Linked DNA regions of Homo sapiens. The protein of the gene in region 3 interacts with the protein of the main gene of each other region in a biochemical or structural test. Each region holds a gene or a part of one and is shown on either strand. Other genes may lie near its edges.

Region 1 (3,747 bases), on a different chromosome or scaffold from region 3:
AGTTGTTTGAAGCAAAACTTAGTAGTTTTGGAGTAATTTGTTACACAGAAGTAGTAACAAGAACAATATTTACTTATTGTCTGTCTCTTCCCACTAAAATGTGGGCTCCATGAAAGCAGGGAACTCTTATGTCTTGGTCCTTCCTGTATCCACAGTGCCCTATACACAGAAGGTACTCAATAATTAGCAGTTGTATAAGTGGAAGAACCTGAATTTGGGAAACAATAGTGACTATGTTGCATAGTTTCTTTTTTTATTTTTTATTTTTTTGTAACAGAGTCTCACTCATTCTGTCGCCCAGGCTAGAGTACAGTGGCGCGATCTCGGCTCACTGCAACCTCCGCCTCCTGGGTTCATGCAATTCTCCTGCCTCAGCCTCCCAAGTAGCTGGGACTACAGGCACACACCATCATGCCTGGCTAATTTTTGTATTTTTAGTGGAGATGGGGTTTCACCACATTGGCCAGGCAGGTCTCGAACTCCTGACCTCAAGTGATCCACCCGCCTCAGCCTCTCAAAATGCTGGGATTACAGGTGTGAGCCAGCATACCCGGCTGATGTTGCATAGTTTCTGATTCATTTAACACAGCACATAGTTATTGTACACCTACTATGAGACAAGCAAGTTGCCAGGGACTAGGGACACTGTGGGTTAGCTTTCTATTCCCGTGAAATCCTATCACAGGGACACTAGTGAGGACTACCAAGAAACGGAAGCCCCCTCCCCACCTCTCGTTATCTGCCTGTCTAAAAGGCTGACTTTTCAAAAACTCTAGAGTTATGATTGCCAAATCCAGCCAGCCCACATCTGGGGGTATATTTAATTATCCCCGGGTGTGGCTCTTTTCCATCCACAGCTCAGTCACTTGTACTCTGGCCTCTCACTATGCGAGCGGATGACTCCAGACAGAGACCATGTGGCAGGAAGGCTGCCTGGTTCTGCACATCTGGCCCCTTCCCGGGGGGTTCCTCCCCAACAGCTGTCCTCCTCGGGCTCCCTCGCCAAACAGAAGGCCAAGCTTTCAAGCTCTAAAAGTAATTCTGGCAGGGGTGCTGCGAGCTGGGAGGGAGGCCTGCGGGATGCGCCTCCAGGTTTAACCACTTAATCCCCAAAGTACCTGCCAAGAACCAGTTAGCATGTCTGGCTGGTGGGCCAGGCTGTCATTAATTCATTAAAGCAGGCTCCCGCTGGCCCATTATCTTCCTTGCCACTGACCACGTCGCCTTATGGGCCTGCGGAGTCCCCCTCTCTCCCCTTCCCCTGCTCCCAAGGCAGGATTCTACCCAGCCCTGGCCCCGACTCCCAGGCAGATTCCTCGGCTCCATTCTCTCTCCCTCCCTGCCCCCTCCCCAGGCACGCTTCTCCCTCCCTCCCTCCCACGCCTCCGCCAGCCAGCACTCACCATAAAGCGTCTTTTGTTCCCTCTCTCCTGTATCTTTGAGTATTGACTGGTTAAATCATACCCATCCTCCTCCAGGCCTCCCCAGCCTCAGAGGAGCCTCCCCTGGGGCTCTGGAAGAAAGGGAATTTCACTTGTACAGGAATTCACTGTGCACCAACCCGGTCTGCTTACTGCCCCTATCTCCTCTTCCCCCGCAAGTCATGGGGTGGGGGGCGCTGTGTGCCCTCAAAGACAGAAGCTGCAGTTCCACTGGGGATCACTTAGGTGGATGCTCTCTGCCTCGGCTTCCCCTTTGAATTAAAAGGAATGACACTGACCATTTCATGACATCCTCTGTTGAGTGAAGTTAAGAGACAGACACTGCACTGGACTTTTTTGAGACAAGAGTCTCACTTTGTCGCCTAGGCTGGAGTGCAATAGTGCGATCTCAGCTTACTGCAACCTCTGCCTCTGGGACTCAAGTGATCCTCCCACCTCAGCCTCCTGAGTACCTGAGACTACAGGTGCACACCACCATGCCCAGCTAATTTTTTTTTTTTTTTTTTGGTACAGACAAGGTTTCACCATGTTGCCCAGGCTGGTCTTGAACTCCTGGGCTCAAGTGATCCGCCCACCTTGGCCTCCCAAAGAACTGGGATTACAGGACTGAACCACTGGCCCGGCCTGCACTGGACACTTTAAATGAATGTTCTCTTATCATTCTCCCAATAACCCTGGAAGGATACAGCTCCAGTTTACAGATAAAGGTGCAGAGGTAATGGTTCTTTCTCAAGGTCACGCTGTCAGCAAATGGCTGGACACTTAAGAGTCTCTTAACCATTATTCTCTCCTGACCCTTCTGGCACTGACTTCCCGGGAGGGCAGGTAGGAGTGGTGTGGAATGGCCAGCAATAATAATGGTAAAATGTTGACTACCTTGGGAAAGAATGATAGTAAATGCACAATAATAATCATGATGGCTCACATGTATATCCACTGTTCTAGAGCTTTCCGTGTATGAATTCATTTAACCCCCTTAATAACGTGCCTATGCACTAAGTCTGGCTGGTGGGCCCCCATTTTTTGCCCCCATTTTACATATGGGAAAACTTAGTCTTGGGTTTTTGTTTCTGTTTGTTATTTTTTTAAAGGATGACTTCTGAGAAAAGTATTGCTGGTTCGCAGTAGAGACTCAAAACAAGTATGCTGGATATATGTATGTGTATATACACATATATGTTTTAAATTATTATTGAGATGGAGTCTCGCTCTGTCGCCCAGGCTGGAGTGCAGTGGTGTGATCTCAGCTCTTCTTGGCTGACTGTAACCTCCGCCTCCCAGGTTCAAGCGATTCTCCTGCCTCAGCCTCCCGAGTAGCTGGGATTACAGGTGTGCACCACCACGCTCAGCTAATTTTTGTATTTTTAGTAGAGATGGGGTTTCACCATGTTGGCCATGCTGGTCTCAAACTCCTGACCTCAGGTGATCCACCTGCCTTGGCCTCCCAAAGTGCTGGAATTACAGGCGTGAGCCAACCTGCCTGGCCTGTATGTTGAAAATATTGATTCTGCATATAGCGGAGCACACCCTTTAAACCTATGGGAATTGAAAGTGGTAGTTCCCACCCTATATGGCTGGCACAGGCCTCCCTCAAACACCTAAGGTACAGCTGTGAACATTCCCCTTTTTCTTTTAGGGTAGGGAAGGTGGAGAGCACCCCATATCCAGCATAGAACGCAACAGACTGTCTTCCTCCGGTGATTTTTCTTTCCCCTTTACTTAACTTACCAGAGCTGGGAAAAAATGAGTTTCCCCAAATTAAATCAAAAGCACAAGAAAGGCCGGAGCGGCTGGTATTCTGAGGTCAGATGTAGGCTGCAGGGAGAGAACTTGATCAGGGCCAGTGCAGGGAGCCCGAGCACTGAGAACCCGGCCTGGGAGCGCAGGAAGGCGGGTGGTGAGCAATTCTACGGGTGTCCCGAGGGTATGAGGGGCGGTGCTGCTGGGAAGCCGAGCGGGGCATCCTGAGGTCAGGGCGCCAGAGGCTGCAGAACCCTGGAGGGTGTGGCTGCAGGGGACGCCCGGGCGGGACAAGGCAGGTAGGAGAAGAACCCAGAGGTGTGGGAAGAGGGTGTCTCCGAGTCAGGGCGCAGCACGGAAGTAACTCTGGGGTAGAAGGCGAGGGCGGGGCGGGGGAAATAAACTCCACAGAGACAATAACCTGCTGCTGCCCCCCAACACCGACTCAAAACAGCGAAACTCCTGGCCGCCGCCCTCCCCTGCAGCGCAGGCCCCAGTTACCCAACTCCTCCCCTGCGCTCCGGCGCAGAGCGGCGCAATCTGCCCGCCCCGCCCGCAGCCTCCC
Region 2 (3,747 bases), on a different chromosome or scaffold from region 3:
GTTCTAAAAGAAAAACCAAATACCATTCAGCGTCCGACACTGGAAGCCCTGAATTCTAAGTGGAAAAGTTATCCCTTTCACCAAAAATGTAGAAAACAAGGCAGAAAATACTTCCCGGTCATTTCCTTAATTTTTTAAAAATTGCATTACACACCTATAAATGTATTAGTATCAATCAAATCAAGTTTAAGAGGGACTTTGTGCTGCTTCCTGTTCTTGGGAATTAAGTCGGACCAGAAAGTGCTATGCATAAGTAAGATCCTTCAGAAAGAAACAAGGTCAGAATCCTAAGACATCACAAAAGGTAGACAAAGCTTTTTCCATCCCACACAAGCGCCAGAGACAGCAGCCTGTTACCAACTTAGGCATGGTCACATTTGCAATGCACCACTTCCTTCGCACGCCCCAGGAGCTCTATAAAATGAAAGTAACTTAAAAGGTGGGGGGGGCGTATAATCGTCTGATGCAACAGCAGTATGGCCCACACAGACTTCGGGCTCTGGGCAGTGACTGGGTTCTCTGTTTAGATTTAGAAAAAGCATGGGGCCGGGGCGCTGGCCTGAAAACTTACGATGGAGCTGTATGTATCGGGGTGGGGAGTGCGAATGAATGAATGAAAAAAAGGAGCGGACTAACTCCTATTCTCCTATCCCCACCTCCCACAATATCGATTATTTAAATGTTACAAGATTTTCTAGGCTCCTGAACACAGGGGCCCTTGTGGGGCCGTCTCTGGAAGCGCTGGGAGTCCAGGCGGTCCCCGGGGCTCTCTCCTGCCCCTTCTGCCGCGACAATGACTTTCTCCTAGAGACAGCCGCCTACACTTGCACTTGTTCCTCGTGGCCCCGGGGAAGGGCAAGTGGCGAGGAGGAAAGAGAGGAGGAAAGGAGCTTTTTGCCCCTGGTGAAACGCAGCTGCATCCCAATCGCAAATCCGGCTTGGTCCCTCGCCGTACCCGCCGTACCCGCCGGTCCTGGGGAAAAACCCCGAAGAACTTTCTGGAGGCGCCCCTAAGGCTCGCGCCAGGGCACAGACCTGGCCCGACCTTGACCCCCGTGCAGTCTGTGCTTGAGCCCCGGCGAGCTGAGCCCGCCCCAGCCGAGACCTCGACCCCGGCCCCGACCCCGCCCGGCCTGGGTCTTCGCTGGCCCCAGCGGGTCGGTACCTGCTGGAGCCCGCGCGGGGCTCGGTTGAGCGTTCTTGCGCGCCTTCTTCCCAGGCATCTCCGCCGGTGCCGCCGCCCACTCAGCTACAGAGCCCGGGAACCTCAGCCTCCAACTGGAGCACCTCGGACAGCTGCAGGACGCGAGCTGAACACGAACAGTCCTGCAGGCAGGGATGCTGGGATCGGGTGTCCGGACGCGCGGAGATGCCAACTACACACGGTGAGTGCCCGGGAAACTCTGAGATCCCCGCGCCAGAGACCACGCTTTTGTCCAGTGAGAACTTCCCTGGTGACGTAGGGAAACTAGACGCCCGGCCCGCCCCTGTCCCCGCCCCTGTCCCCGCCCCGCAGACGGCGTTATGGGAGCGGACGCGGGACGCGGGCGGGGAAGTACCCCGCTGAGCGCGACCTGCCCGGACACGCTCCCGACCCGCGGCGGCGCCGACCCGCGGCGGGGGGCGCAGAGCGCTCGGCCCCGAAATTACTTCCTTACAAAACGAGGTGGGAGGAGAAGGGGGTCGGCTTTGACCATCTGCAAACGCTGGACGTCGTCAGCGGCAGTGGTGGCGGGAGCTGGGAGTGGCGGGAGCTGGGAGTGGCGGGAGGGGAAGGGTTTAACCAGGAGGAACGTTGTGGGTGGGGAGAGACCAGAGGCCTTGGCAATTAGAGACTTGGGTAAACAAGCCCAGAAAAGAGATTGGAAAAGGAAACTTTTCGAACTTGAAGAGTATGGGCAGTAACAGGGAAGGGAAATGAGAAGAACCTTAATCACCGCAGAGGAGATGCCAGAGGCCCTGTGAGAAAGCTCCGGGTCCCAGGAAGTCACTGCAAACAGAAGCCCTGGTGCCAGCCAGAAAGAACATCGTGTTTGAGTTGGGAAGGGATTTGTGTGTGTCCTTCCAGATAGGTCGATATCGCCCATTGTGGATGTTTAGCAAAAACGAGTGGATCGTTATCATATGGAAAACGTTCAAATCTTTTGTGGGAGGGCTGAGCTACCTGGGAACGTGAAATTATTTGCATAATGTTTGGCGAGGCCATGAGTAATTCTACTATTATGAAGAGGAGTAATTAGGAGTGGTTAACGGTTACTGAGAGCCGCTTCATGCTAAGGACTTTGACATGCATTTTCTCATTCCGTCCTCAGAACAACCGTTGCTACTTTACGGGTGCAGAAACTGAGGTTTGTAGAAAATTGCCCAAGTTCACTTAGGCAGAGAGCACTGCCCTGATTCCGAACCAGGCAGGCCCACAGAGAGCAAGAGCTCTTACCCACTGTAGCCTTCCCAGCAATCAGTTTCTTAGAAAATGTGTGTTTTCGCCGAACGCGGTGGCTCACGCCTGTAATCCCAGCTCTTTGGGAGGCCGAGGCGGGTGGTTCGTTTGAGGCCAGGAGTTCGAGACCAGCCTTGCCAATATGGTGAAACCCCGTCTCTACTGAAATACAAAAGATTAGCCGGCCTTGGTGGTGCACGCCTGTCGTCCCAGTTGCTTGGGCGGCTGAGGCACGAGAATCGCTTGAACCTGGGAGGCGGAGGTTGCAGTGAGCCGAGATCGCGCCACTGCATTCCAGCCTGGGTGACGGAATAAGACTCTGTCTCAAAAAAGAAAAAGAAAAAAAAAGCGTGTTTTCATATTAGCTGTGCTGTTTAATGAAAAGATTGCAAATTCGTTGCATGGGCTCCCTAGAAGTGCTTAGTTTGGTTTACAGTATTGGCCTTCAAAATGTATTGTAAAAATTTGAATTGATTACCAACATTTTAAACATTGAGGGATTGCATGAAAAACCCAGATTCCAGCATCTCTTGGAAAACCAGAATCTCTGACAACGTGGGATCCATTTTCCAAAAGTGCAAACTAGGTTTGAAGTGTGGTCGAAGCCACACCCTTTAGAGGAACCTAGGGTGCTCCTGTTCACCACACTCCCCGCTGTTTGCTTTTCCCATTTACATTATCTGGCCTCAGTAGGCATTTGAGGTTGTTTATTTATCTTAAATCATTCAGTCAACACAAACCAGCAAGTATTTATTTATGGCTTGGTCCTGCTGAAGGTATGGACAACAATATAAGCATGGAACAAAACTGCTCTTGAGTTTAAACAACATAGTTTCGAGGCTGATGTTGGCTGTTTTTGAATGGGGTATATACAAACGAGTAAAAGTGGACAGAATTTAGGAATCATCACAAGACGCAGGAAGCACACTGGAGATGCTGCCTTGAAATCTATTATCCCCAAGTGGTAATTCAAAACCACTCCAGGCTCATTTTGACTTACCTAATACATAAGGAACACCGTTAACTTTTTGGTTGCATAAATTATTAAATTTCTGTCGTTCAAATACGCACCCTGAAATGCAGAGAATATACTCAACAACCACCAAAAAAAAAAAAAAAAAGTGAATCACAACATTGTTTACCTATAAAAGGTATGTTAATCCCATCCTCTAACATTTTCATTAGAAAAGAATTGGTCATGTGACTCACACTGGCTACAAACCTTAGGCAACTCTGTTTTTTAGGGAATTGCAAATTCAGCTTGCAAGGAGGAAAAGAGCGGAAAGAAGTCGGGCGAGGTGGGTTTT
Region 3 (3,747 bases):
TAATTAATTATTTTTCCTCCAGTTAATCTGTCTATGTCAATTTAATTCTCAGCCCAGCCAAAGGACCTAGAAGGGTAGAGGAAAGCCATTTTTTTCTCCCTTACACCTTCTTTGATCACTCTTTTAAAACTGCAGCCCCACCCTCCCTTGCTAGACATGCCCTATGCCCCAACCTGCTTTATTTTCTTCATAGCATGTACAATCATCTGATATAAACATGTAATTATATATTTATTGCCTGTCACTCCTCATTGGAATGTGAGCTCCATGAGGACAGAAACTTAGTTTTGCTTACTTTTGTTTACTGCCATACTCCCAGTATGGTACACAGTAGGAGCTCAATAAACATTGTTTGACTCAACGAATGAATTATTAGGTAAATAGCCACTCCCATTATTGTTATTCTGGCTTGACAAGGGTCTGTTTCTTCAGAAATTTAGTGGGTTTCTCTTCAATTAGGTATCTGCTATGCCCAAGGCCTCTGCTCAGTGCTGAGGAAACAAGCATGGACAAGATGTGGCCTCCACCCTGAGGAGCTCCTAAATCTAGGACAGAGTAAATCTGTTAGAAATGTCTTCTCTGCACATAATTTAAGCTCTACCAACTGTTAACTTCTTTTCATTTATCCAAGTTTTGCCAGGTACCACACCAATAAAAAAAGACTCAGTCCCTCTTCCTTCAGATATCTGAAGCTGGTGATATTCTCCTGGGTCTTCTCTTCCCCAGGCTAAACAAAAAGACCCAGTGGGATTGCCTGACTCAGGTCTGCCAACTGGGAACAAGGAAGACAGACTGTCGGATAGAGGGGCAGAAGAGAAGAGGATCCAGGAGTAGAGTGACTCCTTCAAAGAAAAAAGAGGGAGTCCTTAGGGAGGACTCTGTGGAATTAGGTTGGAGGTTGGGTGGGGACAGGGCCTCTGCTTAATTAAGGCAGTAGGAGATTATACTTCCGTAGAAAAGCAGTACACTGGGAATTACCCCTATGTCTATCCACATTAAACTCAGGCAAAACCACAGTTGCTTCAAGAAAGCCCCATGATGGAAGGCTGAGGGCACTGGCAAAACCAGGGAGACTGGACACAGAGGAGGACGCTCAAGCCCACTGGCCTCAGGACAGATATCTGCTGGGGGAAGGGACAGAGATAACAACTGCTGTTTCATGCAGCCCAAACAAATCTGGGGACACCCATACAAAAGTCAAGAAAACCCTCCAGGTTCCATTGGAGCCCCCTGAAAAAATACCCGGGTAATTTTCGACAGAAGCTAAAGGGCTCTGTGGGGCTACTGGGGAAATTATTCCTAGGAAGTCTGGAAAACCCTGTGATGGTAACAGAATTTTAAGAGCAACCTCAAATGTACACTCAGAAGAAGTAGGTGTTTCAAGGGGGAGCCCCTGAGACACTTCTACTTAATTTTGGGACCCGAATGAGATTACTAAAAATTTCCACATTTGGGGTTTCTAATGGGGTTTCCCTAAGAAAACCACAGAACTGCCACTATCTGCAAAGGGAGCTGAGGTGCTTCAACTAAGCATACATCCATCTGAAGAAGCCACATTAGGCAATAAGAGATCTACAGAAACTCAGACCACTGAGCCATACAGCTTAAGAAAGGCCAAGTTATGTTTTCTCCCCCAACACAGTTCATTGCTCCCAACAATTACGTTTCTATCAGGCTAAGGGATTTCTTCAGGGACAGCAATCCCAAAGTGGCAAGGCCCACCTGGGTCCCTTCCCACATTCCCATTGGAAAGCACCAGAAACACTTGTGTCCCTTCGGGGAAGGTCATGTATACAACATTCCAGGAAAGTATCACAGGGACTTTGTTTCTCAAGGAGAAACTCTAGGGGGAAGAGTCAGTTCTCTGAGGGAAGCTGCCCATTCATTAAAGGGTTTCCACCCTACAATTATGGCAGGAGAAGGGCTTTTGTGCTAGATCCTTTACTCGAGTCAAGCTATGGCAGCTGGCTATCATTATTCCATTTTACAGGCGGGAGAGACAGATGGACAAGACAGCCGAACAGGTTCAGCATTTCATCAGGTGACTCCAGGCAGGCAGTAATCTGGCTAAGGGTCTACACTTTCAGTCCTTGAAGCATCACTCCACCACTAAGTAGAGATACCTGGGGCAGGCCACCTTCTCCCCACACGCACACCACTGTCATCTATTGGCAGGGCCTGAGAGGGTTTTAACAATGAAAAAATTGGCCGGGGCCAGGCACGGTGGTTCATGCCTGTAATCCCAGCATTTTGGGAGGCTGAGGCAGGCGGATCACCTGAGGTTGGGAGTTTGAAACCAGCTTGACCAACATGGAGAAACCCCATCTCTACTAAAAATACAAAATTAGCCAGGTGTGGTGGCGCATGCCTGTAATCCCAGCTACTTGGGAGGCTGAGGCAGGAGAATCACTTGAACCCGGGAGGCAGAGGCTGCAGTGAGCTGAGATCGCGCCACTGCACTCCAGCCTAGGCAACAAGAGCGAGACTCCGTCTCAAAAAAAAAAAAAAAAAGAAAAAATTAATAAGCAGCTCACTCTGGGCAAAACCCTGATGCCCACTTGAAACCTGCCATGTCTGAGTTTTACCAGTGCCAGAATCTGAGGCTACCAACACGCCTCTGGGAACCTGCTACTGCCAACTATCCTTCCCATAGCTACCTGAACAAAGCCAGTTATCAGTCCAGAGTGAGCACCTTCACAGGCATGGTTTGCTTGGCCCAACAGCATCTCTGGCTTTCTGGGCCAGCATGTCTAGGTCACTTTATTACTCCCTGGACAACTTGATAGGATGAAAAGTGTTGGCTTTAGAATTATGCCAACCTTGGTGTAAATTCTCATTCAGACACTTAACTGGCTGAGGGACACCTGGGGTCAGTCACTTAGGCACAAAGACCTTCATGTGTAAACTGGGAATAAACTCACCTTCCTTGGAAGGTTACTGTAGAATATATGAAACAGCATGCCGTTTCCATGAAGGAAGGTACCATGCGTGGCTTATGGCCAGCACCTAGTACACTGCTAGCTTCACAGTAGATGCTCAAGAAACACTGGTTGCATAAGTAGAGGACCTAACACAGTGCCTAGTACTTAACAGGTACTCAATAAAGACTAATTTCCTTCCCCTTTCCTGTAGGGATGCTAAATTTAGAACATAGCCCTGAGTAGAATAGCCCATAACTCCTACCCTTAAGGATCTCCCAGCCGCAGTCTCCAGGATAATTACCCGATGCCACCACAGTAGCCAGTCGGTGCAGCTTGGAACAGGATAATACCTGAGAGGAAGGGGGCGGGTACCTTCTACCCAGGCTCAAAGGATCCTGAGTCAAATGTTCTTTACTCCCTGGCCTTAGGGAGAGAATGTGTGCTCAGAAATGGTTCTGATATAACTGGCTCTTCCACACACATCCCCTCTGTTCACCAAGAGGAAGTGACATGTGGTATGTTGTCCAACAGGCTCTGATGATTCTTAAGCAAAGAGATGGAAGATGGAATTTCAACCCCATGGAGATCTAATAAACTTACCCAGAGTTGCTGTGTCTAAGACCTCTTTCATATGCACCACTGGGCAGCTGGCAATTCTCTGGTAGGGGTAGCCTTCTGCAGAGGCTGGCTAGCAGACCAGGCACCTCTCCCAGACTGCCTTTTGTTTATAGCTGGCAACAACCCACCTGGTATTAGGACCACTGGCCAAAGACAATAGTCAGGCAAAGTGGGCAAGCAGCCTCAATCCCTACTTGGAGATGCCTCA

The links.
Region 1: the proteins of BCL2L1 (region 3) and HRK interact in a biophysical measurement, tested with the Homo sapiens proteins (3 studies listed by BioGRID and IntAct, with this or other methods).
Region 2: the proteins of BCL2L1 (region 3) and PMAIP1 interact in a biophysical measurement, tested with the Homo sapiens proteins (3 studies listed by BioGRID and IntAct, with this or other methods).

Annotation. Positions count from the first base shown.
Region 1 is NC_000012.12:116,875,288-116,879,034, forward strand, and holds part of HRK (activator of apoptosis harakiri), read right to left. Parts: intron 3,258-3,747; exon of another isoform or gene 3,171-3,257; intron 1,514-3,170; exon of another isoform or gene 1,404-1,513; intron 1-1,403. UniProt on the Homo sapiens protein: Promotes apoptosis.
Region 2 is NC_000018.10:59,897,654-59,901,400, reverse strand, and holds the start of PMAIP1 (phorbol-12-myristate-13-acetate-induced protein 1), read right to left. Parts: upstream 1,406-3,747; 5' UTR 1,224-1,405; coding exon 1,166-1,223; coding exon of another isoform or gene 1,036-1,165; intron 974-1,035; coding exon of another isoform or gene 819-973; exon of another isoform or gene 1-818. UniProt on the Homo sapiens protein: Promotes activation of caspases and apoptosis. Promotes mitochondrial membrane changes and efflux of apoptogenic proteins from the mitochondria. Contributes to p53/TP53-dependent apoptosis after radiation exposure. Promotes proteasomal degradation of MCL1.
Region 3 is NC_000020.11:31,716,162-31,719,908, forward strand, and holds part of BCL2L1 (bcl-2-like protein 1), read right to left. Parts: intron 684-3,747; exon of another isoform or gene 460-683; intron 1-459. UniProt on the Homo sapiens protein: Potent inhibitor of cell death. Inhibits activation of caspases. Appears to regulate cell death by blocking the voltage-dependent anion channel (VDAC) by binding to it and preventing the release of the caspase activator, CYC1, from the mitochondrial membrane.